Linked DNA regions of Homo sapiens. The protein of the gene in region 3 interacts with the protein of the main gene of each other region in a biochemical or structural test. Each region holds a gene or a part of one and is shown on either strand. Other genes may lie near its edges. The genes, in order: UBASH3B, PTPN12, SHC1, GAB1, ZAP70, CSF3R and FLT4.

Region 1 (3,500 bases), on a different chromosome or scaffold from region 3:
GGGCATTACCGGATTGATGTGGCACACTTGTAGAAGCAGGAAATGCTTTCAGGCTTTCAATCCCAGATTAAAACCTTTAGTTAATTTCATTTCACCTAGTTTATTTCAAATAACTTTCTACATTAAAACAAAATTCCTCTGTACAAGAAACCATTTGCTTCTTATCTGTCAATTCCTTCCTTGCCCTTCCTTCTCCTCTCCCCATACATCATTTGTTTTAATAAGCATCAGCTTCAGATCAAAAAGAACCAGCTGCAACTTCAGGTTATATATATTAGCCTATACTTTTTGGATGTATATGAAATTGAGTAATATAGTTGTCTCTTTCTTTTATTATACATAGATGCCACATGATTTACAAATAATTTCTCAGTTGCAGTGCAAGTTTAGTTTTTTAAATAGGTAAGTGTGCAAGGGGAACTTAATGTGAATTCAGATCTTTTGGGCCATTTTGACAAGCAATTTGAAATAATGAAATTGAAATGAAAGCAGAGAAATACAATCTTTCTTGTTTTCCACCTGAATTATTCGGAAAATTATTTCAGATCTCTATCTCCTTTTGCTTATATAGACCATTGCCTAAGGCAGTGTCCATATTGGACTAAGAACAATGGATTGTAGCCCAGTCAGACAGATTTATCAGTTCGTCATACAACTAAGATAACCTAGAAGATGGAGTGGATAACCTATTCCAGACTCTATTTCATACATTACAGATACTGCCCAGAACACACTGCTACAGTTTCAAGGTGAGGTGTTCAAGCATTATTCTGAGCACTCAACGCCCATGAAAATTTGTGGTGAATCTGTTAAAGATTATGGATCTGATTAAACAGTGGATTCACTTCATTACAAATACCAGAAGAATGAATGGTAGAGCCATTACATTACTTGTAATGTGACTTTTCTCTTAAGACCTTTATTGGGAATATTCCCTCCCAACATTTTATATTAACACATCATCACAGGGTTATTTCCATACCCAGAAGCTGGGTCAGTGTTTGCGCAACGCTAGAAGAAACCATGATTGATTTGTTTCTCAAAATGTAAAATACATGACATATTTTTCTAAGTGACCTAAAAAAAATACAACTATGGGCCAGGTGTGGTGGCTCACACCTGTAATCCTAGCACTTTGGGAGACAGGGGCAGGAGGATCGCTTGAGCCCAGGAGTTCAAGACCAGTCTAAGCATTATAGTGAGACCCTGTCTCTAAAAACAAAACAAAACAACTATAATCCTTTTGCTCATTAACATATATAGCCAGCATCCTTTCATGTCCTCTTCTTTCTAGGGGTTATCAAGTTGTAGTTTCAAACGCAAGCATAGATGTATTTTTATATACCTTACGTTTTATGCATCTGAGTTTTGAAACATAGTCAATGTTACTGCAACATGTAAAGATCCATTTTACACTAACTAATGTCTCTTTAAAGGGCTGGCATTTCACTTTGCATACATCTTCTACAGAGTGAACTATACCATAGGAGACCATCATCTGTGGCCATCAACAGTCAGATAGTCACACAATTAAACAGACATTGATAACTGATGATTTGGTTTGATTGTCATTTATTTCTTTTAAATAAACTCCCTCTAAATGCAGGAAGTAAGTATAATGAGAAACCACAGAATGTGGCTCTCCAAATTTCCTCAGTAGCCCTACCTATGTATTTTAAATTATCATAGAAAAACAAACAAAACGACAGCACAAGTAGCAGTGCAGCCATGACTGTCATCATTTATATTAGTTCCCTGACTTACTATACATCCCTGGTATAATTGATGCATTTGTGGATGTTCCATTATGGTTGACACGTACTGTAAGTGTACAACAACCTGACCCTTGGTATGGTTTGCAAACATGTCCATATTGCACAGAATGAACTTCTTGCTGCAAATAATATATCTAACATACATCCTTTCAAAATGTAACATCCTTAACTAGTTAACATAGTCTAGAGTCTAGGGGCAAAGACAAGCAAATATTGATGATTTAGAAATGCAGTAGCACGTTAGGCTACAACATGGTTAATTCCAAGTCACTTCATATTTTGCAAGTTCTTTGCTCCTATGATTGAATACTTCAAACATGTATCTTATCTTTCCTCCTGAGTATCCAAAAGTGCTTTGGAGAGCAAAAGTGCTTTGTCTCCCCATTTCACAGAAGCAAGGAGGGGGGATAGGGCTGTAGCAAGAAGGGCCAGCTGCTCTAGAGAAAATGTGGCAGTACCAGGGTAAATGTTAGCATCCTTAAGCGGGTATCTTCAGCCAGCAACACTGGTGTATGGGGGCTAGTGACGGTAGGATTTCATGTGTAACCTAAGAACAACTCTCTTCAGGGCATGTTTTCTAATAATCTTAAAAGGATTCCTCAGCTTGGCTCTACCTAACTGGAAAATGGAGATAAAAAAAAAAAAATTCCATCCCCAAGCTGTCCTTTCAATGCTCCCCCAGCTGGTCTGGGCACACTCCTTCCTCTTGCACCCCTTAGAGCGGGCCAGCAGCTCCCTCTGGGAGAAATGAGGCCCCTTAGCTGTGCATACCCAGAGGGAACGAAACATTCTCTTCTGTAGCAGGTGCCCCGATTTAGGAAGACAATTCTCCAAAGCCTTGTGAGCTAGGCAAGAGTCCAGAGAGAACACATTTTTTTCCTCTGAATCAAGTCTTTCTCTCATTTACACAGTCTCATCTTAAGAACTTTAAGTGTGAAAGGAAATATGCTAAATTATTCTGAGCTGTCCACTTAGAGTGTGGTGTGGATTTTCCCACTGTTTTTAAACACACAGAAAGACACACTCCAAAAGGCCTTTCCTTCTTGTTCACTGGTGTGGTTTATTCTTGAAGCAAGGTCTCTCTCCAGTTGAAGCCCCCAGTTGGTCCATGGGTAAGAGGAAGGATTGGTGGATCTGTCAGCTGCCATATTCCAGTTTCTCCTAATTCTTCACAGGAACAAAATCCCAGATATGGGATCTGAAGTAAGAGTCGTAAAGAAAGGGGATATTAGGAGATAGGTTTAATGCTTTAACTTTTACCTAAATACAAAGATATTCATGTGGCCCTAGAGAATTGCAGTCAGAAATGGATAGTGGCTTTGTAGAAATGCATTCCCTTCAAAAATCGATAAATAAAATAAAATGGGTAAAACTGGTAACTTAGAAGAGTATTTACATTGCAAGAGGATTCATCAGAAGGATCCATTAAATGGTGACCTCCCCTAAAGTAATTAAGTCATTGTTCATAGATTGCTGCTTAATTGGGTGGCAGAAAAAGAGGACCAAAATACATAAGGCTACAATGCCAGGAGTTAATTCCCAATTGCAAGTCCAGGTAAAAAGGCAGCTCAAGGCCGGGCACAGTGGCTCACGCCTGTAATCCCAGTACTTTGGGAGGCCGAGGCGGGCGGGTCACTTGAGGTCAAGAGTTCGAGACCAGCCTGGCCAACATGGCAAACCTCATCTATACTAAAAATACAAAAAATTAGCTGGGCGTGGTGGCAT
Region 2 (3,500 bases), on a different chromosome or scaffold from region 3:
GGTGGAGTCAGTCACAAAACACCACATATTGTATGATTCCATTTATATAAAATGTCCAGAATACTTAAATCTATGGAAACAGAAGGTAGATTTGTGGTTGCCTGGGGCTTATGGGAAGGCGGGGAGTGACTGCTAATGGGTACAGAAAGTGAAGAAAATGTCCTAAAATTGATTATGGTTATTGTTGCATAACTTCATCAATGTAATAAAAAACTAGTGAATCATAGACTTTAAATGAATAAATCTTATGGTAGGTACTTATATCTCAATAAAGCTATTATTAGTTTTTTTAAACCTATAAGCTACAACACTGAATAAACAAATGATTAAAATTTTTATATTTATCAAGACTGCAACATAAGATCTTCCCAGGCTAAAGAGGATATACACATAGACAAGAAATAATAAGAAAAATATTCTCTAGTTCTCTCTTTAAAAAAAAAAAAAAAAGGCAGTGGAAGGGGCACACTCTCCTTCAACCAATCTTCCTCTAGCTCCTACCATCTACTTTCAAAATGTTAAAAAAAATGGAAAGACACTAAACCCACCCTTCACCCTATAATCTAGCTTCTTCCCATACCCCAACCCAAACTGTTTTTTCTAGTCACCAAAGCACTCCTATGTGCCAAATGGAATAGGTACTTTCTCAACCTCACCTTACCGGTCCTCCCAGCATTATTTGACTCTGGTAATAACTCCTTTCTTGAAACTCTCCCTGGCTTTTCTGACATCTCTGGTTCTCCTCCCTCCTCCTTGACCACACCTTCTCAGGAACAATCACTAGTATATCCTTCTTTTGGCTGTTATTTTAAGACTGATGTTCTTCAACCTAAAGCTGGTCACTCTATAAGTTTGTTGGAATAAGCTCATTCACTCCCATGCTGTCGACTATCTCCTACATGCTTATATTATGATGCCTACATCTTTAACTCCGTCCTGTCAGAAATCTTGAGCTCTACATTTCTACTGGATGTCTCAGAGGCACCGCAGTTTTAACATGTTGAAAATTAAATTTATCCTCTTCTCCCCCTGAAACTTCCTCCTACAATGTTGTTTGGTCTCCTCTACTTGTTTCTCCTCCCTCACTCCTTACTCTACCAAATGGTATTCTCTAGCTTGGGTGACAGATACCAAGCTAGATATTTTGCGAGTCATAACACTATACTCTTTTCTTCTTTACTACCTACATCTAATGAATCATTGAGACTCCTTTCTTAATTCTTATCAGATGTGTTGTATACACTCTATTTCCCCATCTCAGTTCACTTCAGGCCCTCACATCTCACTTCTTATATTTCAACAGCTTCCAAAATGCCACCCTTCATACTGCTATCAGATTCAACTTTGTAAAACACAAATGACTGTTTACCTTTCTTAAAAGACTCAGTAGTGCTCCAGAAACCCAGACTAATGATTCTCACCTTTTCTACCAGAACCTATCTAAGTAAGTGAAGGTTCAGAGTACAACTCAAGGAGCAGGCTGGAGAAGGTGAGATGGGGGAATGACGCTGGAGTGGACCAGCATGTCTATTTTCTTAACACCTCCCTACTTTCTCCATGTCTCTAGGAGTTACAATGCAGACTGTCCAGAATTGCTATTATCGGTCTGTAGAATAAAATCTAAGTATAGCATAGATGTAAGATCCTTCACAAAAAGACCTCTACCTAACTTTCCCAGCATTACCTTTATCATTTACCATGTATTAGCTCACTGGTTCTCAAAGTATGGTCCAGGACCACCTCCCCAACCCCCAGCCATCAGAGGGAGTCTGTGTGGAGTTAAAACCTAGGTCTGTCAAACATGAATGTGCACCACCCTACTTTATACATTTATCTCTCATTTTGTAAATATTAAAAGTAGAGATAATTGAGATCAAATTCTGGATCAGCCACAAATTAGCTATTTGCTAATTTATTAGCAAAATTAGCATGTTTTCAACATGCAAATAACCATCTAGGCAACATAGTTCTGCACAGTCTGGGTACCTTAGCTGTCTCCTCTTTAACAGTATGGGGCACAACCAAGGCCAGGAATAGACACTCATAGAATAGTAATGACAGGTGGAAAATTTCTATCCTCAATAGTAATCAAGAAATTCAAGTTAAAACAAGATATCAGTTTTCAACCATCAAATAAAGATCAAGAAAATTATAATATGAACACTCATACATTATGACAGTTGTATAAACTGACAAAACTTTTTCAAGTTTATGAACATGTATTAAATGTTTATATACGTCTACCTAGTACTCCTGGGAAGCTATCTTATGCAACAGTGAAAAATGTCAGTTTCAGCAAAAATGTTAATCACAGAATTACTATATGTAACAGCAGAAAGTAGAATGACCTAAATACTCAAACATAAAGAAACAAAATTAAGATATAAGATAGTTACCAAGTAGTAGGCCGGCTACGGTGGCTCACACCTGTAACCCCAGCACTTTGAGGCTGAGGCAGGTGGATTGCTTGAGCCCAGGAGTTTGAGACCAGCCTGGGCAACATGGGGAAACCCTGTCTCTACAAAAAATACAAAAATCAGCAGGGCTTGGTGGGGTGGGCCCATAGCCCCAGCTACTCTGGAGGCTGAAGTGGGAGGATCACCTGAGCCCAGGGAGACCGACGCTGCCGTGAGCCAGGATCGCAACCATGCACTCCAGCCTGGGTGACAGAGTGAGACCCTGTCTCAAAAACAGAACAAAACAACAAAACAAAACAAAACCAAAAAATATTAACAGAGGTAGCCTTTAAATGACAGGACTGTAGGACAGCTGGATAGAGCGAAAAGAGCATCATCACCAGTCAGGCAAGTGGAGTGTTCATTTGAACTGTGGTCTAAGTGTAAGGCATTATTATTATTCTATTAATTTCCAAATTTGGAATAAACATTATTTTATGATGGAACAGTTATATCAGCTACATTATCTCTAAGGCTCAGTCATAAAATGTTAAGAATTTAAAATGCATTTTTAATCGACATCAGAATTTAAAAATAATAGAATCTATAAGCTAATCTTTTTTTTCTCTTTCCATGCCAGGAGAACATAGTTCCTCTCCAGCCTTCCAGTCAGGGGAAAAAGCAGCACCAACTACCGGCTGTCTTAATTACAGCTATTGCTTATCAAGTCAGGAAATTAAAAAAAAAAAAAGCCCTATAAAAGAATAGCCTTAGTCATCAAATCTCTAATGTAGAATCACCTAGCTATACCTAGGTATCATGGAAGAAAAAGGAAACTCATTTACTCTTGGAGAAATGAACTCTCGGTGGCTCATGCCTGTAATCCTAGCACTTTGGGAGGCTGAGGCGGGCAGATCACAAAGTCAGTCAGATGAAAGTTCAAGACCAGTCTGGCCAATATGGTGAAATCCCATCTCTACTAAAAATACAAAAATTAGCCAGGCGTGGTGGCATGCGCCTGTAATCTCAGCTACTCAGGAGGCTGAGGCAGGAGAATCGCTTGAACCTGGGAGGTGGAGGATGCAGTGAGCCGAGATTGAGCCA
Region 3 (4,300 bases):
AGACCCACCCAGTGCTCCCCACCATGCCTCACCTCTCTGATTCACAGGGTCTTTGGCAACATAGGCGACATACTCGGCTGTGTCCTGGGGAGGAAGGTCAAAAAATTTTACAGTTCTACTTTACTCCTGACCCCTAAAACCCAGTCCTTTTCAGATATCCCCACAATCCTAGCACCCCCACTTCTCTAATCAATGTCTTCCCAATCCCTAGCCCCTTGCTCTTCTCCCACCGCCTTTGCTCTGTTCCCCAACTCACCGGATCCCCGCCGGATGCAAATGAGATAGATTGCATGTGGTGGTTGGCGATGATCTGAGAATTAGGGCAGGGGATGAAGAAGGAAGGGAATGCCATGTGTCAGGCAGCCTCAGGGCCCAGAACCCTGGTGCCCCAGTCTCATTCTCTGGGTTCCTTATCCCATATCCTCATTTCCTCCTTCCCTACTGGTCTCCTGCTCTCAAGCCCTCTTCCTAGATTTTGGCCTCCTAACTAGATCTCCCCTTAGCACCCCCATCAGTGTTTCTGGTCCGTCTGCCCACCTTCACCAACCTGTTTGCAGTCTGCGGCCATGAGGTTGAGGCTGCTGGTGGAGACGGTGAGAGTGATTGGCATTCCAGCAAATTTCAGGTTACTCCTCCCCAGGATAGAGCTGAGCGGGCGGCTACAGGGCTAAGGTAGGGCCCAGGGTCTCAGAAGGTGAGGGTTCCCAGCACAGGCAAACCACACTTTTGCCTCCTGGCCCTCTCCCCACATGCCCCACACTTGCCTCCCCACTGCCCCTCCACATTTCCCAGCAGCATCCCTATCCCCAAGGACCCCAAGTACCTTTCTCCTCCTTGTCGCCCCCTTAGCACCCGGCACAGCCTCACACACCAGACTGATGGCCTCCCTGGGGAAAGAGGGGTACTCAGACCCAGCGCCTGCCTGCCTGCCTCCCACTCAACTGGGGCTGCCACAGGGCTGGGGGAGGGGAAAGCCAGGCCAGACTCCCAGGGCACTCCAGGCTCTTTGTCATGGTGGATTGAATTAAGGGCCTTTAATATTTGATGACACTGAGAGGCCACTTCCTGGCTGATTGGGTTAGGGCCTCAATGGGTATAGCCCCACCCCCTTCCAGCTACCAAATGTCCCATTCCCTTCCCAAAGGCAGCAGCAACCTTCCATCTACCCCCCTTTTCTACTCCAGCTCCACCTGCCAGCTGCTTCTGCCACCTTCCCCACAACTCCCAAGGCTGGATAGGTAAGGAGGATCCGGGCCAAAGGGGCCTCCTTTCAGTAAGAGGCGGAATCACTACCTCAGCTTTCTCTCAATCCCCTTTACTACGCAAAGATCAGCCCCCAGCAGCAGCACCCAAGTGACCCACTCCCCTCCTCTGTTTCCCATGGCCTCACTAATCCCAGGACTCCCACAATCCACTCCCTCCCCACTAACCTGGTGACCTGAGTCCGGGTGTTGAAGTCCAGGGCACGCATTGACTGGAGGACCTCCACACAACCCATGTACTAAGGGGAGGGAGAAGAGGACAGCAGGTCAGCGGCTCCCCCACCCCAGCCCCTTCACAAAGGGCCCTAGGACTTTACCCATATGGTCCCTAAGGGAAGTAAAGAGGAAGAAGTTCTGCCCACTTCCCGTGGCTACATCCCACAACCAAGGTGAAAGACAACAGGGAATGAGGAGAAAAAGAAAAGGCAGGCTAGAAGGACCTCACACACTGGGGAGAGAGTTTGGAGGGGACCGACAGGCATTGGCTGGGATGGAGTGACAACTCCAGAAAGCGGGAGGAGAATGGAGGAAAGATCAAGAAGTCATTCATTCCAACACTTATTAAGAGCTTCTGCCATGCTGGGCATTGTGCTAAGCATGCCAGGGTGGGGGTGGGGGAGTGAAAAGAAGGAAGGGGGCCCAGGCAAAGCTGGAAGGGAAGGGGCTACAGAATCGGGGAAGGGATGAGAAAGGTTTAGGAAATAGGACACTGAAACGGGGTTGTTGGGGAACAGCAGGAAAAAAGAGATTCCGGCCAAGCTGGAGTGAGCATTAGAACTGGAGGGGGTCTGCGGGGGAATGGAGAGGAGGATGTTCACTCACCCGAACCAAGTAGGAAACCCCGGGTCCCATGACTTTGTCGTTGGGATGCAGCCAGCCCCGCGTGGGCTTATTGACAAAGCTCCCGTGGCGGGTCCACTCCTCGCCCCCAAGCTGGCCCCCTTCCACCCGAGTCCTGCGCCCGCCGCCTCCACTCAGCTTGTTCATGTCCTGGAGGAGGGGTAGGGGGCCTGAGTCTGGCATGGCTGCCCCTACGATCCCCTCCCCATCATCAGCTGCCCTTCCTGGCTCCCCCTTAGACCCTGGGCGCCCCCCAGCCGGGTTGGCCAGCCTCAGGTTGCTCATCCGGGGGAAGAAGGAGCACAGGGTAGTGGGACTATCGTCCCCAGGCAGAGGAGGCAGGATGGGCCCCAGGGATGAAGCTGATGGGGAAGGCAGCTCCTCCGGGGGGGTGGACCCAGAAGCCCCTTCCTCCAGCGATGACAGAGACTCATTCCGGAGTGGATTGTACTTGGGCTTGGGGGGCAGGAGATCCATAGTTGAGGTGAAAGAGGGGCTGCTGCCCAGCCTGGCCCCCCTGCCAGTTTGGGCAAGGGGGCCAGGCAGGGGGTATCCCCAGGCCCTTAGCCTGGTTGGACCTCTGTGGCCCAGGAGTCACAGAAGTCCTGGGGAGGGAGAGGGACAAGTGGCTTCCGCTCCCCAGCTCAGACCCAGACAGTTTCAGGCCCCATCCCCGCCCAACGTGGAGCCTCTTCTCTGGCTGAGAAGAGAACAGGCTGGACCCAGCGCTTCTGGCTCCTCCCCAGGGGCGGGGAGCTAAGGGGAGAGACCAATCGTGAGGACAGTGCTGACTCACAGGCTCAGAGGGGCTGAGCCCCCACCCCGCCCCAACCTCGAACTGGAGCAGGGGGTAGGGCTATCCAAGCCCCTCTCCCCTGCCCTATACAAACAACTAGTAATCTGGGGAGAAGTAAAGTGGGGGTGGGAGGGAAGGATGGAAGAGTGGGACGGAAAGGAAGGAGATAGGAGGTCTGGGTCACTCAAAACCGGACACACGCAGGCCAAAGGGGGCAGGAAGCCAGGCAGGAGTACAGGGGAATGAGGGAGGAAACAGAGGCAGCTGGGGGTGGAAAAGGGAGGAGATCTCAGAGCTCAGCATTTCCCTTCCTGTCCTGGTTGGACACTCGAATTCCCCCACCCTCTCTATGCCCGAAAGCTGGCTGGCCCCAGCCCAGGCCACCCCCAACCGCTACCCCATACAGTAAGCCTGGGCCATTAGCATCCTCTGCTACAGCAGCTGTGGACTGGAGCTAGCGAAGTGGGGATGGGAAGTAAGTGGTCCCAATGGATGCAGAGCAGGGCCAAGAGGAAGAGCAAAGCTGGTGAAAAAAGGGGAATAAAGTTCAACCTGGATGATACATCAGGAAGCTACCAGGCAAGAAGGGAACAAGAGGACATGCTGGTCACGGCTTGTTCTCTACGTATGCCATCTACCACACCAAGACCGATGGCTCATAGCCAAGCACTGTCCTGTCTCCCCTTTCCACAGGGCTTGTTAACACAGCACACTGTCAAGGGTGAGAATGAGGCAATCAGGTCCCCACTCCCACTCCAAACCACCCCAATTCACATCCCTCCTCTTACAGGGCCCTAAGCCCCACCAAAGAGCACAGCATCCTTCACACCAGGGAAGGAGCCTGGCTGGAGGAGGTGGAAGAAACAGTTCTCCAAGAGAAGTAGAAACTACAGGCCAGGAAGGGACAGAGAGATCAGAAGACACATCTGCGTCAATAAGGACAGGAGAAAAATAAGTACAGGAGAAAGGGGTGTCAGGAGAAGATGGGTTGAAGCTGGACACAGGGAACAGTCCCAAACCCATTCCTGCCACCCACGGCTTCCTGCCACTGCTCTTCCGGAGAATGCCACAGGCAAAGCTGGAAAGTGACCAAAAAAAAAAAAACAAAGATACGTATTCCTACCGGGCGCGGTGGCTCACACCTGTGATACCAGCACTTTGGGAGGCTGAGGCGGGTGGATCACCTGAAGTCAGGAGTTCGAGACCAGCCTGGTCAACATGGTGAAACCCTGTCTCTACTAAAAATACAAAAATTAGCTGGGCGTGGTGGCGGGCACCTGTAATCCCAGCTCAGGAGGCTGAGGCAGGAGAATCGCTCGAACCCAGGAGGCGGAGGTTGCAGTGAGCCGAGATCGAGCCATTGCACTCCAGCCTAGGTGACAAGAGCAAAACTCCGTCTCAA
Region 4 (3,500 bases), on a different chromosome or scaffold from region 3:
CGCAGGAACAGAAAACCAAATATCACATGTTCTCACTTACAAGTGAGAGCTAAACATGGACATAAAGATGGCAACAACAGACACTGGGTACTACCAGAGAGGGGAAGGAGGCAGGTGGAAAGGGTTGAAAAACTAACGATTGGGTGCTATGTTCAGTTCCTGAGTGACAGGATCATTCATACCCTAAATCTCAGCATCGCACAATATACACAGGTAACAAACCTGCACATGCACCCCCCTAAAACTAAAATAAAAATTGAAATACAAAAGAATAAAAATTTTAAAAAGTGCATGTTAATTTTTAATCACATTCAGAAACTTTAAAAGATCTCTTGAAAAAATGTTTAGAGCAAATCCATCACTGTGCCAAAAGAGTCACCCAGGGAAACTCTCAGGATTAGTCTTCTGTATGCTCCCCACACAATATTAAGGATCTAAGCTTGAAGGTACTTTAACCAAAGTGGTGTATAAAAACACCATACAAAACCTTGCACTGGCTTAACAAAAAAAAGTCAGTATAGTAACTAATGTTCAGACTGTTGCAGAAAGGCGTGAATGGACAAGGCCAAACATAACAACATAAAGACAGCATGTGGGGCTCACACAGCTGCTGCATCATGCTAGACAGAGACTAGACAGAGATGGGGGCCTTAGATAAGTTTAGCGATTTAATATACTAGATTTATGTCATGACATAAAGAGAAGCTATAACAGATAAATTTCCCAAACTTTACAAAACTCCCTTTCCATCAGAAATATAAAATTTTCAATTGAAGAGGTCAAAATATAATTTGTCCTGTATTTCCAGTGACTCATCTGCTTTCCCAATATTTAATACAGTATGCTTAAAATACGTTTCTCTTAATACACACAAAACTTGGCTCAAAACAAACACTACAGTGACAGAAATAGTATGATGAAAATATCACTATCATGAATTGAGTGACAGGCAAAGGGTCTAAGATAATTATGTTTAAGTGTTCAGAACATCTATGTATTTCTGCAGTTTCAATTACTCATAAGTATTTGAAAAGCTCATCTGTATGCAAACTACAGCAGCTGACATCTATAATTGGGGCTATAAACAAGACTAGAATGTTACTGGTTTCTTATAGATCCTTCCAAAGACAATCTCAAAAACCAGACATATAGGGCAATGAACTAGTTATATGGAGCTCTGAAACTAATCAAGCCATATTTTATAGAATTAGATTTGCTTATAATGAGTTTTATATAAGAGATACTGAATAATAGATTAAGTCATTTATCTGATGTCATGAAATTTGAAATTAAAATAGATTCATCTGATGCTATGAATACTGAGAAAAATTATAGGACCAAACGAGACATTATTTTTGTTTAAGTGTTTGTGGATAAACTTTGCTTTGAGATCTGAATTTGGATTTTAAAATGTGTTTTTCTTGAAGTTATAACTTTGTAAAGTGAGTTTATGAAGTCATAACTTTGTAAAGTGAGTTTACAAAGTCTGCCTTGTAATGTTAAATACATTCTCAAGCCTCCTCTCCTGTATCATAACTATTTAAAAAGTAGAATAGTACAGGCCGGGCACAGTGGCTCACGCCTGTAATCCCAGCACTTTGGAAGGCCGAGGCAGGTAGATCCCGAGGTCAGGAGGTCGAGACCATCCTGGCTAACACGGTGAAACCCCGTCTCTACTAAAAATACAAAAAATTAGCTGGGCGTGGTGGCAGGTGCCTGTAGTCCCAGCTACTCGGGAAGCTGAGGCAGGAGAATGGCGTGAACCCCAGAGGCGGAGCTTGCAGTGAGCCGAGATCGCGCCACTGCACTCCAGCCTGGGCAACAGAGCGAGACTCTGTCTCAAAAAAAAAAAAAAAAAAAAGTAAAATAGTACTAAAGAAAAGTAAATTTTTTTTGAATACTATGACTTCAGGAACCTCTTTACTGTTTTGCTAAGTCTATTCTTGATTCTGGCAAAAACTATATGGGTATTTCAATCTGGGTGCTCTTTTTAAGTTCATTTTGTATCTAAGCAAATATGCCAAATAAATAATGTGGCCAACGAACTCACAATTGTCTCTGAACAGTTCAGTTAAATTTTAAAAGAATGAACACAATCTCCAGAAATAAGAACCTACTTTATTCTGTTCTATTAAGTTCTTTTACGTTAAAGAACTAGTGTGATTAGTCTCTAGTGTACTAGAATAATAGTACTTTCACTAAATACATAGGGATGTATAATTATAAAATATGTAGTATACATGATACATAGTATATATTCTGATATATACATAAAATATATATCATAATAATGTGGGATACATGAGTGATATCAGACCTAGAGGATACTAAAAGCTAATCATTAATTGATCTTAGGTCTTTTCTAACTTATAAACAGTGGTGTTTCCTGATTTCATATTATGCTTACCACATGGAATCACAACTGTTGAAATATACTGGAGTTTTCAAACTGTGCTCTACAGAGCTCAAGGGGAGAAAAGAGCAGCAGAGGAGCAAGGGAGGTAGGACTTAAAAGCTTTGTAACCTCACCCAAATCTTACTCCCTCCACATTTATGCGAGACCTCAAAATATAAAACTGTTAGGTTTGGAGTTAAAAAGTAGAGATCTGCCACTAACATGCACTCGTTACTGGAAAATAAGGAAAGCACCAGTTTAACATTAAAAAAGATATTTCAATATTTCAAAGAGTTCATGACACTTATATCTCAATCCTTCAGTGATCTGTATGAACCAATTATAAAGCTATACATGTCCAAACATATTTTTGCATATTATATGCAAAGAAAATGACTAGTAGTTGTCTAAAATAGATTTAGAGACAAAGAAAAAGGAAACAAAAGGAAGCATTATCCGATAGAAAGCCTCTGATGCTCACATCCTTTCTGAGATCCACACCGCAATCACAGCCCTGCTGCCAGGGCAGACTGGGTCGTCGTGGGTGTGACACACATAGACCAATCACATCATCTCTAAGCAATCTAAAGTGAGTAAATAATAAGTAAGGCAATGAGAAGCTGATGCAGAAGCTGCAAGGGCACATAAAAAGCAGCTAGGAGGCAGAACTGAGGCCATAGAAGGGGAGCATTGGAGGCCAAAGCTCTTGGAAAGCAGAATCCATTTAAGTAGAGGATACAGAGTAAGAAAACAAAAAAGAATCAGAAAAGAAAACAGAAAAGAAGGGAAGAATGTGAAAGAGAACAAACCAGATGCAAAGATTTCCCATAAAACAGAAATGCACAGAGAGAGCAGGACACAGCAACAGTCCCCTAGAATTGCTTCAGTTCCTGATAACCTCCTTGTTGAAGGAGGTTAACCTCCTGTTGAAACGAGGAGGTTATCCTTACTTACAAACAAAACCAAATCTTTTTTCTTAAGATAGTCTGAGCCTCAGTCTCTTTTCCTCACAACTAGGACTTAATTAGAACTAATATTAATGATCTAAGCCCAGGTTAAGGAGAAATTGATGCCAACATTATGTGGTCTTAAAAAGCTACATATA
Region 5 (3,500 bases), on a different chromosome or scaffold from region 3:
GCTTGCTGGATGATGGCTGCACTGGGCCAGCTCATCCCCATCACCCAGGTGACACTGAGCCAATGGCCAGTCATGTGAGTGTGGCCATCCCAGCCTATTCAGGCCCAGCCTAGATGACCCAAACCAGAACTGCTTAGTTAGCTCACAGAATCATGAAGAGCAATAAACTGTCATTTTGAGCCAATAAATCTTAGGGCTGCTTGTTATGTAGCAAAAGCTAACTGATACAAATGCAAAGGTTTCCTCTTAGAGAAAACAGCCCTGTCCTGTTCAGAAGTTGTGCCGGCAACTGAGTATTACGTGCAACATGTATCTAAGAGCTCCCTCAGAAGCCTTGGAAACTCCACTCCAATTTACAGCCTAAATCTGAATCTGTATGGTAGGGTGAAAAGAGTTATTTTATCAGCCCACAACAGAATCTTGGAGAGGGAGCTGCATCTTGCAAGAGGCCTGCAGGCAATCTACAGAAACTTCACATGGGTGAGGAAAATCAAGGGATGTGGTCATTTCCTCCAAGTGGGTTGACCTCAGGAGAGGAAACAGCCCTGGGGGAGGCAGATGACCCAAGGGATCTGCTGGGCAGGGGCTCAGGCCAAGAAGCACTCACGAGAAGGAAGGCCCAAGAATTGTCCCCACAGATTTCTTGGGGGAAAACACTGGGCTTCCTGAGGTCATGGGAAAGAGGCAGCACCAATTTATCTGTGTCTTGAGGCCTGAGTGACCTCAGCTGCACCTGGATACCATCTGTTACAGAAAAGATCCCGTGTCCAAACCAGAGAGCAACAGCCCCAGCAGGGCTGTCAAACACTCAGCAGAGTTTTAAAAAGAGATTTTCAGAGATTTTTTTCACATTAACAAACTCACAAATAGCTACATGGCCTCAGCTGTGGCTCAGACACGCACGTTCACCCACATATAAAAGCTAACATTTACCGCATTTTTCCTATGTCAGTTACCATACTCTCGATTCACACGTATTAATTCATGTAATCCTCATAGAGGATCCTGAGGGGAGGTACTGCTGTCAACCACAGGACAGTTAGAGGGGGCTGCTTCAACACTCTCCCGGGGATCCCACCTCACTTGGGGGAAAAGCTAAAGTCCCCGCCCTGCCCTCACCTCCTCCCATTCTCCCCCTCACTTACTCAGCTCCAGGCACATGGCCTCCACAATGTTTCTGGAACACGCCAAATAGACTCCTGCCTCCTGATCTTTGCACTTGCCATTGCATTTTCCAGGAACACCCTTCCCCCTGAAAGCTGCACAGCTCACTCCTCAGCTTCTTTCCCTTCCTCAGAAGTCACCTTCTCAGGAAGGCCTCTTCTGACCACCTAATCTAAAATTGCAACCGCCTCCCCACCTGCACACACGGCGCTTACCACCATCTGACAGGGTCTCTATTTTATTGATTCCTTTTCTTGTCTACCTGCCCCATGAGGACAGGCACTGTGTCTTTTTGGCTCACTGCCGTGTGCTCAGTGCCTGGTACACAGTAGGTATTCAGTAAATATTTGTTGATTGAAGGAGGGGAAACTGAGGCAGGCAACCACAGTCCGCTACTTGCCCAAGGGCCACAGCCAGCAGGTGGCGGAAGCGGGATTCCAAGCCAGGCCAAGGGACCGAGTCTGGAGGCTTTCCTAGTCACTACCTCTACTTCCCCATGTGCAAGTCCCTTTGCACATCAGAAACACACAACCCACTTGCACATGTGAGCACAGGGACACCCTTACGGCCCAACTGCACACTCACGTCTGCCCCAGTCCCCAGGATCCCTGCCAACGAGCCCCAATCCTCACCGCACCCAAATCCCGGGCCCCACATACAGGAACTTGCCGTCGGTCTGCGCCCCAGAGTAAAGTTTGCGCTCGGCCTCCTCACGCGTCAGGCTGCTGTGGTACCAGGGCATCCGCTCGTGGGCCGTCGTAGCAATGAGCTTCTCCACCTGCGGGGCCTGGCTGATGATGGCCTGCTCCAGGGCCTCGCCCTAGAAAAGGAGAGGCGAGGAGGTCTGTAGGTGTGGCCAAGTGCTCGCCACAGGAACCCCCTTCCGGGAGCCCTGTCCCAGAGGACTCCCCACCCCACCCAGGCGTCCCTAGCGCGTGTTAGGCAGGTTTTCGAGGACTACCTCCGCGCCATCTCCGTGGTCCCCTCCCCAATCCAGCTAGGGAGGAACCACCCCCACCTTCCAGCGCGGCCCCAAGCGCATCTCCAGCTTGAAGACCTAATTCAGGTAGTTGTGCATGGTGGTGTCACTCAGGCTGTGGACGACTACTGCCCATCTTCCCCAACAGCCACCCTACCCTAAGGGCTCACCCTAGCCCCGCGCACCCTCCTCTCAGCCCCGCCCCCATTCCAAGCCTCGCCTTCGCCCGGCCCAGTGCGTCCCTCTACCTTCCCATCTGGCATAGTAGAGCACCATAGCATCGCTCAGCCTGCGGAAGGCGACCGCCACCACGGAGCCCCTGCCTCTGAGGCCTCCTTTCAGGTTCTTCCCCAACCAGTGCCCCACCTCTCCAGCTTCCAAAGGGGACTGAATGGGGAAGACGACCTTTTCCTCCCTCCTATCCCCCCAAAACCCTCGACTGCCCCTCTTCGGCCACGCCCCTCCAGACCCCGCGCCCCAGGCTGCGCTCTCACCTCCAGCTTCCACGTCTGGCGCACGTAGTCACGCACCATGGCGTCTCGCAGGCAGTCGAAGACCCCCGGCTGCGGCTCGAGGCCCGACGGCCGGTTGCACGGCTTGCGCAGGTTGCAGGGCAGCCCGTCGGGGTCGCGCGAGTAGAACTCGCAGAGCTCTGCCGGTCCACAGTGCGCTTTGCCGCCGGCAATGGCGTAGGTGCCGTTGAGCTGGCGCTCGATGGGAAAGTGGTGGAAGCGCACATCGTGCACGAGCGACAGCACATAGCCGCCCAGCGAGCGCAGGCACTGGCGCAGCAGGAAGAGCCCGTCCGCCATGCCCGCCAGCTTCAGGTGCTCCTCGGCCTCGGCACGCGAGATGCTGCCGTAGAAGAAGGGCAGGTGCGCCGCGGGGTCTGGCATCGCCCCTGGGCCTCCCGAAACCTGCGGGTTCACAGAGGGTCGGAGGCACGTCAGGGCCTTCCTGAACCTGGTGCGTTGGGCCCAAAGACGGCGCGAGAGACGCCAAGTGGAGGGCATCAGTGCCGCAGACTGAGCTCGCCAAGGGGGCAGAGCCTGCTCTGTGCCAGAGTCAACCTGGAGAGAAGCCGCAGCCTGCTGGGCACAGATCGAGAAGTCCCAAACCCCCATCTGACTTTCCAGAGACATTATGTGGACGCCCAAGCACGCCAACTGGTCCCCAAGCACCCACACCTGTACCCATCTCTTCATGTCCCAACCACGTGCTGAATTATTGTGTTTCAGGCCCGGTGCTGGGGATATGCACGCTTGAGGCAGGCGCGGTCCCACCCCGTCCTCCCGAAGGCAACACTCTAAGGAGGGAGAGCCGTGAGATAAACTGAGAAAGAAACAAAAATAATAAT
Region 6 (3,500 bases), about 120 Mb from region 3:
AAGAAAAGTGGAAGAGAGAGCTAGAAGGGTGGCAGAGTCAGGGCTATAGAAAAAGGATCAGGTTAGACTGTAGGAAGAACTTCCTGATTATGAGGATATGAAATGAGAACAACGAAGGATCAAGAAAGGCTGGAGAATCCATGTCTCTTGGGCAGTTCAGGTTGTCCCATGCCTATTGTCAGATAAGCACTGCCTCCCTTTGTCCCTGGCCCTGCCCAACTTTCCAGGCCAGCCTCACCCTTCAGCAGAAACCCCGTGGCTCTCCCATTCTGTTCCATCCTCCAGGTCTTGTTGCTATTGCTCGCGCTGGGGGGGCCCAGGCCCCACTCAATCACATAGCCCTGAGGCCATGGATTGGGGGGCTCCCAGCCTACCCAGAGGCTGTGAGGGTCTCGGGCCATGGCATGGAGTCTGGTCAGAGCTGGGCCTGGAGACAGGGTGGGAAATGGTGGAATGAAGGTGAAAAGAATGCAGGCCCTTGAGCCAGAAGCCTGGGTTCAAATCCTGGCTTTGCTATTTACAGGCTGGGTGACCTTTGGTAGGTCAACATCTTAGCCTCAGTTTCCTCATCTGTAAAGTAGAAATGATGATAAAAGTTCCTAACTCATAGGGTCTTAGTGCAGATTAAATGACTTGATGCACGAAACAAGCCTGGCATAGCGCCTGGCATGGAGTAGTTCTTGTTAGTGATAACAGCTAACACTCTATTGTTCTTGGTATGTGTCAGGCGTAGTCCTTGATATATTTTATTTTATTTTACTTTACTTTACCTTACTTTATTTTATTTTTTATGCAGAGACTTGCTCTGTCGCCCAGGCTGGAGTGCAGTGGCGCCATCTCGGCTCATTGCAACCTCCACCTCCCAGGCTCAAGTGATTCTCCTGCCGCAGCCTCCCGACTAGCTGGGATTACAGGCAACCGCCACCATGCCCGGCTAATTTTTGTATTTGTAGTAGAGATGGGGTTTCACTATGTTGGCCAGGCTGGTCTTGACCTCCTGACCTCAGATGATCCGCCCGCCTCAGCCTCCCAAAGTGCTGGGATTACAGGCGTGAGCCACCATACTGGACTCCTTGATACATTTTAATTCACTGAGTCCTCTAATAGTCATACCCAGGAAGTACTACTCTTTTCCCCATTTTACTAATGAGAAAACTGAGAGACACAGAGAGGTTAAGAAACTTGTCTAAGATCACACAGCTAGTAAGTGGGAATATTAGCTATGATTATTGTTATTGTGATTATTAGTCCCACCTTGCGAGGACCAATGTTTAGGGAAAGCAGTGGGTGGTGGCAGCTGATTTCCTGAGAATGAGCAATGAACTCATAGACCAGGTTCCAAGTGGAAAAGCCTGGGGCTTTCTCTCTTGGCTTTCTTGGCAGAATGGGCTGTGAGTGTGTGTGTGTGTGAGAGAGAGAGCTTAACCTGGTCTGGCTAATGATAATAACAACAGCAGACACATGCAGAGCAGTTACTTTGTGCCAGGCACTTGTCTTAACTCATGTACACCCCATGGCACCGCTCAGTAGGTGCTGTTATCATCCCCATCTGCTGGATGTGTAAACAGAGGCCGGGGATGGGAGGTAACTTACTCAGGTCACACTGTTAGCAAGTGATAGGACTCGTTTTTTGTTTTTTTTTGTTTTTTTGAGATGGAGTCTCCCTCTGTTGCCCAGGCTAGAGTGTAATGGCGTGATCTCAGCTTGCTGCAACCTCTGCCTCCCAGGTTCAAGCAATTCTCCTGCCTCAGCCTCCGGAGTAGCTGGGATTACAGGTGCCCGCCACTATGCCTGGCTAATTTTTGTATTTTTAGTAGAGACAGGGGTTTCACCATGTAGGCCAGGCTGGTCTTGAACTCCTGACCTCGGATGATCTGCCCACCTCGGCCTCCCAAAGTGCTGGGATTACAGGCGTGAGCCACTGCGCCCGGCCAATAGGACTAGATTTAACCCAGGCAGTCTAGCCTTTGAATTGATGCGCTTGACCTCTGTGCTCTTCTGGCTGCCAGCCCCCTTTACCTCTGCTTTCTGAGAAGACCACCGGAGTGGGACGAGAGGTCCCGGCTGAGTTATAGGCCACAAGGGCCACCTCCTGGGCTTCTGAAGGCAGGTGGAAGGTGCAGCTGAGCTCTGTGGTGTTGCAGAGGGGCAGGATGGCCCCAGCCTGGCCTGAGGGTCTCCAAGAAACCACATAACCTTGGATCCGTCCGCTGTCTTCCTCCAGGGGCACTGGCTGTGGGGCACAGGAGGAAAAAGAGAAGGGGATGTGCAGCTCATCTTGAGTCAAGGAGAGCCTCTAGGTGGGGTGGATGGATCATACAAACGGAGCCTCCCCAGGCTGGGGTCCAGGCTTCTCACCCCCCTCCCCTTTTCCCTCTGTTCCCTTGTGCTAGGTTCTAGGAAGGAGGGCAGGAAGAAACAAGTTGGTGGACACAGCAGGCTCTTAACTATTCACTGAACCACACTGTGACGTGCGTTACAGTCTGTCCAAAAGCTAACTCAGCTCCCTAGGCACATGCAAAGTGCATGCAAATCACATATAAATGCGTCCACGCCTCCCAGACCTGTTGGAGTCCTAAGCCCCGGTTTGTAGGGATCTGTTTGGACTGCGGGAGGTGTCGAGGTGGAGGGATGGCCTTCAGAGGGAGTCACCTTCCAGAACAGCTGCACTGTCCTGGGGTCCAGCTGCCTCTGCCGCCACCATGTGTCCAGTCTGACAGTGGGGGCTGTGGATGGAACAAGAAGAGGGGGTGCCAGTTGGGGAGGGGCCTGGGGCCTGGACTGGATACTGTTGGCTGCTCCCAGCCTCTCATCACCTCCTTACCCCGTTCGGTAGTTCTCAGCTCCAGGCTGGGGCTCCAGTCGCTCCAGTGGCCAGGCAGGGGCCAGCGGATGCAGCGTATCTGCAGGGTGTAGGCCGTGGCTGGGAGGAGCCCGCAGAGCTCATACTGAAGGGCCTCCAAGGGGAGGGGGCCCACCTGGTGAGGGGTGGACAGGACTCTGAGCCTTGGATCGCTGGGCCATTCTAGGGCCAGCTCGAGCCCGACTTACCCTGCCCCCTGCCCCCACCACCTCAGGCTCTCCAGGTTGCCCTCTGCCTCACCAGTGCCCAGCTGGCTTCTCCACGCTGCGGCTTGTGGCGCAGCTCACACTTCTGATTTATGTGCAGGCCTGGCTGCCATGGCTCCCAGCACAGCTGTAGGCAGCCTGCCTGGGGAGGGGCCGCTTCAGGGCTGGGGTCCATGGTCCGCAGCATGGGGGGCTCCAGTTTCACTGCAAGGAGTGGGGCTGTCAGAAGGTCTCCCTATCCCACCCTAGAGGGCTCTGCCTTAGCTCCCTCTTGTCTCCCTGTCTGTGGTTCACCATCTGTCCACGTTGCCAATGACACGTTTCTGTGGTTCGATCTCTATGTGTCTTTGTTTCTCTCTAGGTCTCTGTTTCCGCTCTTGCCCCAGGGCCTTTGCACTGGTTGTTACTTCTGCTTGAAATGTTTTCCCTCC
Region 7 (3,500 bases), on a different chromosome or scaffold from region 3:
AAACATCTGTGTGAAAATTGTCCCCGAGGTGTCTTCCCTTCCTAAGGCAGAGCCCATTCCACACTCTCCCATGAAAGCCCCCGCTGAGGACCCCAGGCTGGGGTGCCTGATCACGGGATATAACCGGGCCCGTCAGGCACTAGGAAAAGGGAAGAGGCCAGGCTCTCACCTTCTTGGTCTGGAGAAGCCCGCCTCGCTCCGCCCTCGGTCTTCGAGAACCGCGCGAAGAGGACCCTGTCGCTGCTCCCCGGCCGCCTCCGATCCAGCCTGGCGAGCTCCACCATGGCGCGGAAGCGTCCGCGCTGCTCGGGAGACTTCTCCTGCGGATGCACGAAGCTGGCTCGAGGGCGCCCAGTCGTCCGCCGCAGAGGCGCCTCCATTCCCCCGCCGCCCGCGGCGCCCCGCAGGCCGCCCGCTCACCGCGCAGGGGCTGAAGGCGTCCCGCTTGGCGCGCAGGAAGTTGGAGAGGTTGCCGTACTTGCAGAACTCCACGATCACCATGAGGGGGCCTGCGGCGGGACCGGGCGGCGGCCGTGCGTTCGGAACCCGGGGCGCGCTGCGGGCGCGCTCCGCGTTTGCACCCGCGCCCCCTCCCGCCCGCGGCGCCCCGCGCCCGGGGTCTCGCCGTCCCAGCGGGCCGCCCGCTCCGTACCCTGCGGCTTGGTGCACGCCCCGAGGAGGTTGACCACGTTGAGGTGGTTGCCGATGTGAATGAGGATCTTGAGCTCCGACATCAGCGCGCGGTGCTCGCTGGCCGTGGCGCCCTCTGGAGGGGACACGGGCCTCACACCGGCCCCGACCCTGGCAGGTCCCCGTTCCCCGCCACCCGGCGCTTTTGGGAGGGGGAGGGTTACTAAGGGCCCCCAGGACATCCTGCCGGCCCCACTGAGGCAGAGGGGGTTCGGGTGGTCCCTCGGCTCTGAAGCCCGCAGCCTCCCTGTAGAATCTCGGATGAGACTGGCTTCCAGCCTCAGTCTCCCTTCCCGAGTTGCCGTCCCACCGGCCCACCCCGAGCTGCTGCTCCTCACCAGCTAGGCTGCCCCTTCCGCCCGCTGACCCCACACCTTTCAGCATTTTCACGGCCACGGTGTCACAGCTGCTGCCCTTGTGGATGCCGAAAGCGGAGGCTTCCACCACCTTCCCGAAGGCGCCGTAGCCGAGCACTCTCCCTGTCGGGGCAGGGGGCCAGTTGCAGGTGAGCTGTACGGGGTGAGCGTGGAGACAGGTGGGCGGCGGGGGAGCCCCGTGCAGAGGTCCAGGAGGACAGGCCTGGCAGCAGGAGGAGCGTGGGGAGCCACAGCGGGAAGACAAGGAGAGGTGGACAGGAGGCCGCGCATCCTCCCGGGTAGGTGTGACAGATACACCCTGCTCAGGGTGGCAGCAGGTGACCTCAGGGAGCCTGGGAACTGGGGACCCTGGCTGAGGTTCTAGGTACCCACGCCCACAGGGACAGGTCAGGCCAGGCGGAACTTCCTGGTGCAAGTTTTGAAAATGGAGGGATTCAGGCACTCCGGCCTGCAGCAGGTGGGTCGGGCAGGAGGTGTGGGTTGGGCAGGCTGGTGCTGGCCTCACCCAGGTGCAGCCGCTCTCGGGGGAATTCCCACTGGCTGGCATCGTAGGACAGGTATTCGCATTGCTCCTCCAGAGGCACCTCCCCGGGGTCCATGATGATGGACAGGTAGCCCGTCTTGATGTCTGCGTGGGCCGGCTGCGGGGAGGGGACAGGGAGGAGTGGGGCAGCTCACTGATTTGGCCATACCACTGTGGCTTGGGCAGAACTTTGCCCAGGACAGATGGCACTTCCTGCGGGGTTCTCAGTCAAGGAGGGGACAGAAAAAAAGACAGACAACCTCTGCGGGGTTGGAGCCCAGCGTGAAGGGCAGGGAGGCTTCCCAGGAAACAAGGCTGCCAGGTGAACTAGGGCGGGCACCTTATTCTTTATCTTAGGGGCGGCCAGGGTGGGGAAGGCCTGAGAGAGACTCCATCAGGAGCGGGGAGGGACACTCACCCTCCTCATGTTACAGAAGATGAGGAGGAGGAGGACCCAGAAGAAGACAGCGATGACGCCGGTACCGACAAGGATCACGATCTCCATGCTGCCCTTATCCTCGGAGCCTGCGTGGGCAGAAAGGGGCCGGCGTGTGTGTGTGTGTGTGTAAGAGCGTGCACCTGCAGGCAGCACCCCTTCTGGTGGCCACGACTTGCCCAAGGTGGCCACAAGAAAGCGTTAACTGGGGACGGGAAGGGAGTTGAGGGGTGCAGCCTGAGGCCAGACCTTCCACGGCCACGCTGGCGGAGGAGTTGACGCAGCCCTTGGCGTTGCACACGCTGCACAGATAGCGTCCCGCATCCTCCTCGCGCACGCGCTGGATGCTCAGCTTCTGGTTGGAGTCCGCCAAGTCGACTCCTGCAGGGGGTGGGGTGGAGGTGCGGGTCCACCTGGGTTTGGGATCGTCGGCCTCGCGGGCCTCCGGACCTGCCCTTCGCCAGGGCCACCCTCCCTACCAGACTTTTCCTCCAGCAGCCTCTCGTCTTTGTACCACACGATGCTGGGCGCGTGCGCTCCGGCCACCAAGCACTGCATCTCCAGCGAGTCGCTCACGTTCACCAGGAGGTCGGTCAAGTTCTGCGTGAGCCGAGGGGCTTCCAGGGCTGGGGGCAGGGGTCGAGAGGGAGCTAAGTGGAGCTGCACTTAGCAGGAGGACCCTCTTTGGGCTGGGAGCAGAGGTAGAAAAGGATCCCTGGAAGCTGGACTTAGGGGTTGTGCGCCGGGCAGGAGCGCGGCGCGCCTCCGCAGGGGGCGGCGGATAGTCAGGAGGGGTAGCTCCTGCAGGCCAGGGCTGTGAATAGACCTCCCAGGGGCGAGCCACGCCGGGGCAAAGGCAGAGGCAGCTACTGCTAGAAGAGAGCGCGTCCCCGCCCTCCCCGCGGCCAGCCTCACCCTGCACCGACAGGTACTTCTTGTGGCAGTGCTTGTCATGGCTGCGCCGGTCTTGCACTTCGCACACATAGTGGCCCTCGTGCTCGGGCGCGACGCGGGGGATACTCAGGCTGAGCGTGGCGTGGCGCGCCCCAGGTGCCACCTCCTCCAGGCTGGCGGCCAGAGGGGTGGCGAACAGATGCACGTTCTTGCAGTCGAGCAGAAGCGGGTTCCCGTGCGCATCGTGCAGCGTGGACAGGTTGAGGCGGTACCAGCGCAGATGCTCGTACTTGTAGCTGTCGGCTTGGCAGCTCAGGAGCACCGGCTGGCCCTCTAGTAGCTCCTCGGATGGCTTGGATTCGATGGTGAAGCCGTCGGGGATGGCTGTGGAGGGAGGAAGAAGCCCTGTGGCACTGCCCTGGGAGTTTGCTCCCCCATCCACCTGCCGCCCCGGGGTCTCCTCCTGCCTCCCTCCCTCCCTCTCTCCTGGAGGGGCCCCAGCTGGACTGCTTGCCCCCCGCCCCACCAAAAGCCCAGGTCATCAGGAGTTCCTTGTCACCCTCAGTGGGACTTGAGTCCT

What was found.
Region 1: the proteins of SHC1 (region 3) and UBASH3B interact in a test that uses a peptide from one of them, tested with the Homo sapiens proteins (one study listed by BioGRID).
Region 2: the proteins of SHC1 (region 3) and PTPN12 form a complex in vitro, tested with the Homo sapiens proteins (2 studies listed by BioGRID).
Region 4: the proteins of SHC1 (region 3) and GAB1 form a complex in vitro, tested with the Homo sapiens proteins (2 studies listed by BioGRID and IntAct, with this or other methods).
Region 5: of the proteins of SHC1 (region 3) and ZAP70, one has a biochemical effect on the other in vitro, tested with the Homo sapiens proteins (2 studies listed by BioGRID, with this or other methods).
Region 6: the proteins of SHC1 (region 3) and CSF3R form a complex in vitro, tested with the Homo sapiens proteins (2 studies listed by BioGRID, with this or other methods).
Region 7: the proteins of SHC1 (region 3) and FLT4 form a complex in vitro, tested with the Homo sapiens proteins (2 studies listed by BioGRID).

The regions. Positions count from the first base shown.
Region 1 is NC_000011.10:122,809,222-122,812,721, reverse strand, and holds part of UBASH3B (ubiquitin-associated and SH3 domain-containing protein B), read right to left. Parts: intron 2,974-3,500; coding exon 2,836-2,973; 3' UTR 1-2,835. UniProt on the Homo sapiens protein: Interferes with CBL-mediated down-regulation and degradation of receptor-type tyrosine kinases. Promotes accumulation of activated target receptors, such as T-cell receptors and EGFR, on the cell surface.
Region 2 is NC_000007.14:77,540,295-77,543,794, reverse strand, and holds part of PTPN12 (tyrosine-protein phosphatase non-receptor type 12), read right to left. Parts: intron 1-3,500. UniProt on the Homo sapiens protein: Dephosphorylates a range of proteins, and thereby regulates cellular signaling cascades. Dephosphorylates cellular tyrosine kinases, such as ERBB2 and PTK2B/PYK2, and thereby regulates signaling via ERBB2 and PTK2B/PYK2.
Region 3 is NC_000001.11:154,967,948-154,972,247, forward strand, and holds the start of SHC1 (SHC-transforming protein 1), read right to left. Parts: upstream 2,801-4,300; 5' UTR 2,580-2,800; coding exon 2,085-2,579; intron 1,502-2,084; coding exon 1,431-1,501; intron 888-1,430; coding exon 824-887; intron 668-823; coding exon 548-667; intron 311-547; coding exon 257-310; intron 85-256; coding exon 33-84; intron 1-32. UniProt on the Homo sapiens protein: Signaling adapter that couples activated growth factor receptors to signaling pathways. Participates in a signaling cascade initiated by activated KIT and KITLG/SCF.
Region 4 is NC_000004.12:143,441,376-143,444,875, reverse strand, and holds part of GAB1 (GRB2-associated-binding protein 1), read right to left. Parts: intron 1-3,500. UniProt on the Homo sapiens protein: Adapter protein that plays a role in intracellular signaling cascades triggered by activated receptor-type kinases. Plays a role in FGFR1 signaling. Probably involved in signaling by the epidermal growth factor receptor (EGFR) and the insulin receptor (INSR).
Region 5 is NC_000002.12:97,723,576-97,727,075, reverse strand, and holds part of ZAP70 (tyrosine-protein kinase ZAP-70), read right to left. Parts: intron 3,061-3,500; 5' UTR 3,040-3,060; coding exon 2,638-3,039; intron 1,985-2,637; coding exon 1,824-1,984; intron 1-1,823. UniProt on the Homo sapiens protein: Tyrosine kinase that plays an essential role in regulation of the adaptive immune response. Regulates motility, adhesion and cytokine expression of mature T-cells, as well as thymocyte development.
Region 6 is NC_000001.11:36,469,414-36,472,913, forward strand, and holds part of CSF3R (granulocyte colony-stimulating factor receptor isoform a precursor), read right to left. Parts: intron 3,274-3,500; coding exon 3,104-3,273; intron 2,979-3,103; coding exon 2,825-2,978; intron 2,727-2,824; coding exon 2,653-2,726; intron 2,234-2,652; coding exon 2,020-2,233; intron 428-2,019; coding exon 239-427; intron 1-238. UniProt on the Homo sapiens protein: Receptor for granulocyte colony-stimulating factor (CSF3), essential for granulocytic maturation. Plays a crucial role in the proliferation, differentiation and survival of cells along the neutrophilic lineage.
Region 7 is NC_000005.10:180,618,601-180,622,100, forward strand, and holds part of FLT4 (vascular endothelial growth factor receptor 3 isoform 1 precursor), read right to left. Parts: intron 3,305-3,500; coding exon 2,942-3,304; intron 2,653-2,941; coding exon 2,506-2,652; intron 2,408-2,505; coding exon 2,276-2,407; intron 2,116-2,275; coding exon 2,009-2,115; intron 1,709-2,008; coding exon 1,573-1,708; intron 1,170-1,572; coding exon 1,065-1,169; intron 767-1,064; coding exon 653-766; intron 510-652; coding exon 421-509; intron 321-420; coding exon 170-320; intron 1-169. UniProt on the Homo sapiens protein: Tyrosine-protein kinase that acts as a cell-surface receptor for VEGFC and VEGFD, and plays an essential role in adult lymphangiogenesis and in the development of the vascular network and the cardiovascular system during embryonic development.